Homo sapiens: one gene and its partner. The protein of the gene in region 2 interacts with the protein of the main gene of each other region in a pairwise test. Each region holds a gene or a part of one and is shown on either strand. Other genes may lie near its edges. The genes, in order: ZSCAN29 and SEC22C.

Region 1 (3,369 bases), on a different chromosome or scaffold from region 2:
TCAATAAATGTATTGTTTAGAAAGTCTTCCAATAGTGAGATTCATCTACTATTCTGTGTCCAGTTAGCTTAGGAAATTCACTTTAGGATTTATGCCACTGTTTGTTCCTTGTTTTTCCTGATCTAGACTCAAATCCCCAAGGCAGTCTAAAGAATGAAAGGAAGATTTCAGTCCCTCTCTTTGCCTGCATCTGAATTGATGGATAACATCTTTTCCCTCTCAGTGCCTATGGTGTTCCCTTAATATAAGCACAGAGGACAAGGTAATAGATCCTATGAATTTGATAAGCATCCTTCTTTACTCATTCTGTCATTCAGCTGCATTTTGACAGGAAAAACCCATTACATTTCGAGAAGAAGTTATGAGACTTTGCCCATTAGGTGGGTCTAGCTCTTTTTTTTTTTTTTGGAGACGGAGTTTTGCTCTTGTTGCCCAGGCTGGAGTGCAATGGCACGATCTCAGCTCACTGCAACCTCTGCTTCCCGGGTTCAAGTGATTCTCCTGCCTCAGCCTCCCAAGTGGCTGGAATTACAAGCATGCGCCACCATGCCCAGCTAATTTTATATTTTTAGTAGAGATGGGGTTTCTCCATGTTGGGCAGGCTGGTCTCAAACTCCCGACCTCAGGTGATCTGCCTGCCTCGGCCTCCCAAAGTGCTGGGATTACAGGCATGAGCCACTGCGCCGGGCTTTTTTTTTTCGAGATGGAGTCTCACTCTGTCGTCCAGGCTGGAGTGCAGTGGCATGATCTCAGCTCACTGCAACCTCTGCCTTCTGGGTTCAAACAATTTTCCTGCCTCAGCCTCCTGAGTAGCTGGGATTACAGCCACCTGCCACCATACCAGGCTAAATTTTGCATTTTTAGTAGAGATGGGGTTTCACCATGTTGGCCAGGCTGGTTTTGAATTGACCTCATGATCTGCCTGCCTAGGTCTCCCAAAGTGCTGGGATTACAGGTGTGAGCCACTGCACCCGGCCCAGCTCTTCTTTATACAATAATGGAAATGCTAAAATGAATGACTCTTCCTGCTCACTTAAACCTGTGCTCAAAATGACATATTTGTCAGGCACCCTCTTCATTTACCTTAAAGAAGGAGAGTTTAATGTCCATCTTGGTTCTGCCCTATGAATCATCTTGTCAAGAACAGGTGTTCTTATGCAGAAACAATGAAAACCTTATACTGAAGTGTGAACCCTGGATTTCTTAGTTTCTTCTGAGTCCTAGAAGAAGGGTTGGAATAGAATAATACATTTACAGGATTTAGGTTGGTTTTCTTTCTGTCCAGTCTCATCTGAATTTCGTCTGTCTCTTGTGGTCCAGAAGTTCCACAGAGCAACGCAGCTGCATGTGGTGACAGGTAGAGCAGTTAAAGCTGCCAATAGGAACTCGTCCATATTCCACACACCTGGTATAGTGTTATGCCCTCCATGGGCACTTACCTGCAATAAGCAGAAGCCACTGCCACATTCCCGTGTATTGGGAAAATGGACTACTGTGTGCGAACAGGCCCTTTACCCTAATGGCAGGGAAGATGGATTATCTTTGGCCAGTGGAGCTGCCAATCTAGACATACACATTCAACTGAATACAATTAAAAGCAGTTCTTTAAATGCAAATATAATTACTCATCTTTATAATACAATAGTATTAACTGCCCATATGCTCATAGTATGATGAGCCCTGTATAGCACAAGGTCAACAGGTCCTCTCCTTGTCCTTACAATCTAAAGCAGATGACACTGACATGGACAAACAAGTGCACATGCATAGTTGCGGCAGTTTTAGAGAAATCTAGAAAGCTAGGTAGCAACACTATGCATAAATGTTGTGGTCCAATGCATTAGTTTGCTTTAACAAAAATCTGGGAGGTATTTTTTCTCTTTATTCAGGAAGGCTTCATGAAGCAGGAAGTGGTCAAAGGAGGGAAGGTTACTGGTTAAATTATGATAGGAAGAACTTTCCATAACTAGTTGCAAAATTGAGTGCTGGGTGGGTTGAGGAATGGGAAAAAGGGGGAGCAAGGTGTTTTGTGTAGATGGAACAAAGGGCAAAGGATAGACTGTAAGGAAGGCCAGATAAAGCTTGGAGTAGCATGAGAACTTGAGGAATAGTATGATATGGGCTGTGCAGCAGGCAGAGAGAATCACCTTAGCTGAAACATGGGTGTTAGGAGCAGACCATGAGGTGGTAGAACCATCATCTATAGTAAATCAGGTACTACGCTATAACTATTGATAAGGAAACAGCTGACTGCCACTGAAAGAATAAGCAGTTTTAGGGGACTAGCTCCTATGGGAGATAAAGGTCAGAAATCGTAGTATCTGATGAAGATATTTTGATGAGCAGGTGAGAAGAAAGATAAACATGGCCAGATGGCCAAGGACTGGGATAAGTAGCCGTTTCACATTCAATTAGAATTCTGTGGCTGGAATAAGATCAGGGAGAGCAGTAGGAAGATATAGTATTCTATAATTCATAGCTTGTTGTGTTAGAGATTAATTAGGATTCTGCTGTTGAATCTTAGTACAAAAAAATCTAATATTTATTAGGAATTAAGGGAAGATGGTACTTCTGTTATGTTGCCTAAGCAGACAGGAAGCTACAAGAAACACCAGTCTGAAGCAGTGCCTCAGGATCTCAGATGATTTAGGAAGTGTGCTGTAATGTCAAAAAAAAAAAAAAGTATTGTCTTTAGTATATCTATGTATAGTCTCGTGGGAAAAGCATTGGTTGTGGTATCAACAGATATTCTGGTTCCAGATGTCTTGTAAGTTAACCTGCCTCCATTTCCCTTTCTGTAAAGCAAAATAATGTTTACACCTAATCTGTCTCTCAGGGATACCATATTAATAAAAATCATGTCTATAAAGTGCCTGGTGTTTCTTGAAGTGTTTATGTGTGTGTGTGTATATATATACACAAATTACGATCAAGTTATGGAGGGCAGGAAAAGACCAATCTTTCTTTTTTTAACTCCTTGTGTGGGTTTACTAGAAGTATGCTTATCTGAATCTTTATATTCTAGAAAGAGGAATAAGTCAGATTGTGGTAAAAGGGAAATTAGAATGCAAATCCTTCCTTTGTACCTCTATCCATATCCACAATAAATTAGGACCCAAGATAACTGGGCATGCAGAGTCTTATTTTTTAAATTTTTATTTATTTTTTAGAGATAGGATCTCACTCTGTTGCCCAGGCTGGAGTGCAGTGGTGCCATCATAGGTCACTGCAGCTTCAAATTCCTGGGCTCAAGTGATCCCCAGCCTCCCCAATAGATGAGACTACAGGCATGAGCCACTATACTCAGCTAATTTTTTAAAGTTTTGTATTGATGAGGGGTCTACGTTGTCCAGGCTGGTCTTGAACTCC
Region 2 (4,024 bases):
TTTACTGTCACTGGCTCCCTAGAACAAGCCTCAGCTTCTCAACCTGAGCAAAAAAGTGGTTAAAGCAGATGGTGTCTGAAAACTATCAACTACCAAATCCCAGCACCCAATAACTCAGATGTTTATTTTGGAAGTCACTGCCTTCCTCCAAAAGATTCTGATTCAGGACAGATGGTGCAGAGACTCTTGGAGAGTGAATTCCCCAATGTGTTTAGAGGATGGTCAGGAGAGGATAGTGCATTTGCTTTCTTTCTGGGAATTTTATTAGCTGCTATAGGAACAGCCTTTGCTAAAGGCCACCTTCCCTTGGCTGGAAACCTGAGGAGGTGGCCGGCAGCTGCGCCCCCTGGTGGCCATTCTGTGGTCAGGCTGGTCCTGGGAGATGAAACTTCACCTTCACAGTAGACAAGAGCCCAAAACGCGGAGCACGGAAAGTGCCTGCTGCACATAGCAGGGCAGGGGCAGAGCCTGCAAACTGGGGAGGCCTCCCAGCCCCCAGGGCATTGTTGTGACTGCTATTTTGGTTGGGGGTTAGTACTAAAGACTATTTGAGCCCTTGCGCCTGTCTAGGCCTCACTGGACAAGATGACCTGACTTTCACTTCTTTCAACAACCCCCTCCCATTATGTCAGGCCCACATCACACTGTCTAGCAAAGGATCCATAACTCGGAATTTTTCACATAAGTGCAAAGACACATGTTAATAAACACTTTAGATTTATTCTGCCATTTCTGAAGCCACCTCATTTAATTTATACATAGGATATAAATGGCTATACATTTTTACACACTTTTATACAAGTTTAGGTTGTACTACTGAGTTTGTTAAAATGTACCCATTATTTACTCAAAATATTTATTGTTACAAGAAAACCGTAAGAAGCTTGTGTAACATGAACAGCAAGTATTGAAAACGAATATGTAAAGTAAATGGTTTTGCCCTGACTAAATCAGCCTCAGTATTTTATGCTTTTAGTAGAAAAGCCCATTAAACAAAATAGAATCCTGGGGGATCAAATCATATGAATGATTCATGAAATAACACTTCTGAAGCAACCCCAGAATCATATAAATGTAAGGGTTAAAGGTCATATGTACTAAGCATGGGTCAGAGGAATAGAATGGATTTGTTAATTTTACCCTAAATAAAAGGCGCTTGTGGGCAACAGCTCTGCCATCAATACACATGGGCAGATGTTTCCGAATCCAGCCATTCCCAGATTTCACTGACATGCCCTTTTCCACAGGCTCCCTGCTGATGAGATTTCCCCAGCAGCAGAAGTTTGACATCACTGCTCCCGGATGGGAGAATCAGAGCTCTCCTCATTTGGGTCAGGGGTGGCTGGCTCACGAGGTTTGGTCCAACCAGCAGAACCAGCTCCTTGGATCCTGGAATAAACCAAACATCAATGGTACCATGCGCTCTGTGCCCAGGGAGTGAAAGGCAGGTCCAGGGTGGGAAGAAGAGGGGCTGCTACCTTTTGGAGTGAAAAAAATGAGGTTTACACTGTAGTATAACAAAATGCCTTTTTGTAAAGGCCAGAAGAAATGGCTGTGCTGTGCTGCCTGAAGCAGAAAAACCTTCATGTACCAGGTGAATGTAAAGCCTTTCTCCTCCCACACACAATGGACTCACCCAGTATTACCCTCCACTACCACTTTTGACCCTCATAACAGCACCCTGGCGGGGGGGCAGATTGATGTTATCACCATTTACCAGATGAGGAAACTGAGGCCTGATGGGCAGTGATTTGTGCACTGCGACATAGGACTCAGTGAAGAGCCTAGCCAGCTGACGGTCAGCTGACTGGTGCACTCTTTCCCTCACCTTCTCTCTCAAGGGCACAGCTACACTCTTTCTCCACCATTATTAACACTCACAGGGCACAGGTAGAGCGTCCCCAGACCTGTGCAATATTCTACACGAAAACATTTGGAATGTGAGCAATGTCTGAACAGGGGCTTGCCAGGCACATCTGATCACCATAAATGCTCCCACCCCTGCCTGTCCTCACTTGTGCTGCACTATGCAAGCAAGCAGCAGGTTCTCAGAAGGCCACTGTCCTGCATGTCACAATGAGTGGCCAACTCCTTCACAGAACAGCAAATAGCAGCCCTGGCTACAAGGTGCAGTGTGCAACCCCCATATGCCAAGGGGCAGCTGCTATCTTCCAGCAGAGAGAGAACCCCCAGCTCTGCTCCCTACCTATGCCCTGCTTCCTGTGCCTCACACAGCCAGCCTTGCTGGCCTGCTGGCTATTGTCTCTGACTCTGAGCTGTGCTGACCACCAAGTGTTACTCCTCTCCAAGACTTGACTCCCAGGCATGGGTGGGAGAGTTGAACCTCAATGCAATCTGCTCCCACTCTGAAGCTCGTCTACCCACCCCATTTGTTACAATTAAAGATGGTTTTCTCATCCCTCCAGAGACTCCAGTTTCAGACTCTGTCTCCAGAGCTGGAATGTATAGGGCAGAGGTAGAAAGAGGCAGGAGAGTTGGAGAACAAGAGCACCTAGAAAAGAACAGAGGAGCTCAAGCTCATTTAATCAAAATGCTTAAATGTTTTAATTCCAGCATTCTCCAGAGTTCACAGAAAAGAGGGATGCAAGCCCAAAAAGCAAAAGCAGGAGCTTATGGTCACATGCCTCCAGCTGCAGGCAGTGGGGCCTCTGGTACTGAGAGGGAATGCCACCCGAATATGCCCCAGCTGTCTCCACCCAGGAAAAGGAAAGCCAGGTACACTTCTCATCACAGTAAGACTAGCCTAACAGGGGAAAACAGATTTACATGTTTCGTTCATTAGCATATTAGGGAAGGGGAAACCTTTTGGGCTCTGGCCCCGTGGTTGGGAAACCCTTCCTAAGAGCATGGAGCCACACTCTGGCCTTGATACAGTAGATGGGACTTAACACACTCTGATGCTCAAGGCCTTGCAGCATCTGATACCAGAAGGCACCTCTAAAGTTTTGTTTTCAACATTATTTCATCTATTCCCAGATCTAGTCCAGTGATGTCAGCTGCACAGGTAGCATTTAACTACTGGGAAAACAAAAGTGCTACAACAACAGTGAGTCCATGGTGGAGTGAGGATAACTCCTGGGATTTGGAACCAGTTTGCTGGTATCAAGGATCACACAAGAGGCTATAAACCTCCAACCCTGAACCAAGTCAAACCTAAGCCTGGGGATTTCCCTCGGATGAAATCACCAGAACTTCTTTCCTATTTTCAGTCTCTTCCTTCAGTGAGCTGAGGATTCTTTTAGCTAGCTGGATTTCAGTCAAACAATGTTTTTGTGGTCATTACTTGTACTGTTTTTCTAGTGCATCTTTTCCCTTTTGTTTGCAAAAGTCAATCTCACCCCATGTAGATGTTAACTGATATCCACACATTCGACCTGGTGTGGATAACATCTCTGGTAGTGCCTCGGTGGTCAGGAAGCATTACCAGGAAGGACTCATCTTCAAGGACCGTTTCTTTACTGCCTGCTGAATATGGATCATAGGCTCAGATGCCCAAAGCACCTGGGGTACAGGTCTACATGGCAACCCAATGCCACATAGGAAAAGAAAACAGTCCATTTTTAAGCCGTTCTTACCGACTTTTTTTTTTTTTTTTTTTGAGACGGAGTCTTGCTTTGTCACCAGGCTGGAGTGCAGTGGCTCGATCTCGGCTCACTGCAACCTCCACCTCCCGGGTTCAAGAGATTCTCCTGCCTCAGCCTCCTGAGTAGCTGGGGCTACAGGCACAAGCCACCGTGCCCAGCTAATTTTTGTATTTTTAGTAGAGATGGGGTTTCACCATGTTAGCCAGGATGGTCTCGATCTCTTGACCTCGTGATCTGCCCACCTCAGCTTCCCAAAGTGTTATTGACTTTTAAAGCTTTTTTGTTCTTCTCATTTAAAACATTTTACCTCCCCTCCTTAACTTCCCATTCTATTTCACCATCTCTTCAAAATTGTCTCCCAGAAAAACTGAAAATTCACCTGCTGGGTATGCAGAAAATTATGCAGATGTGAAATCAGT

Evidence for each region.
Region 1: the proteins of SEC22C (region 2) and ZSCAN29 interact in binary tests that used the Homo sapiens proteins (3 or more experiments, as listed by UniProt).

The regions. Positions count from the first base shown.
Region 1 is NC_000015.10:43,357,675-43,361,043, reverse strand, and holds the end of ZSCAN29 (zinc finger and SCAN domain-containing protein 29), read left to right. Parts: 3' UTR 1-2,869; downstream 2,870-3,369. UniProt on the Homo sapiens protein: May be involved in transcriptional regulation.
Region 2 is NC_000003.12:42,547,269-42,551,292, forward strand, and holds the end of SEC22C (vesicle-trafficking protein SEC22c), read right to left. Parts: 3' UTR 1,390-4,024; coding exon of another isoform or gene 1,348-1,389; 3' UTR 701-1,347; downstream 1-700. UniProt on the Homo sapiens protein: May be involved in vesicle transport between the ER and the Golgi complex.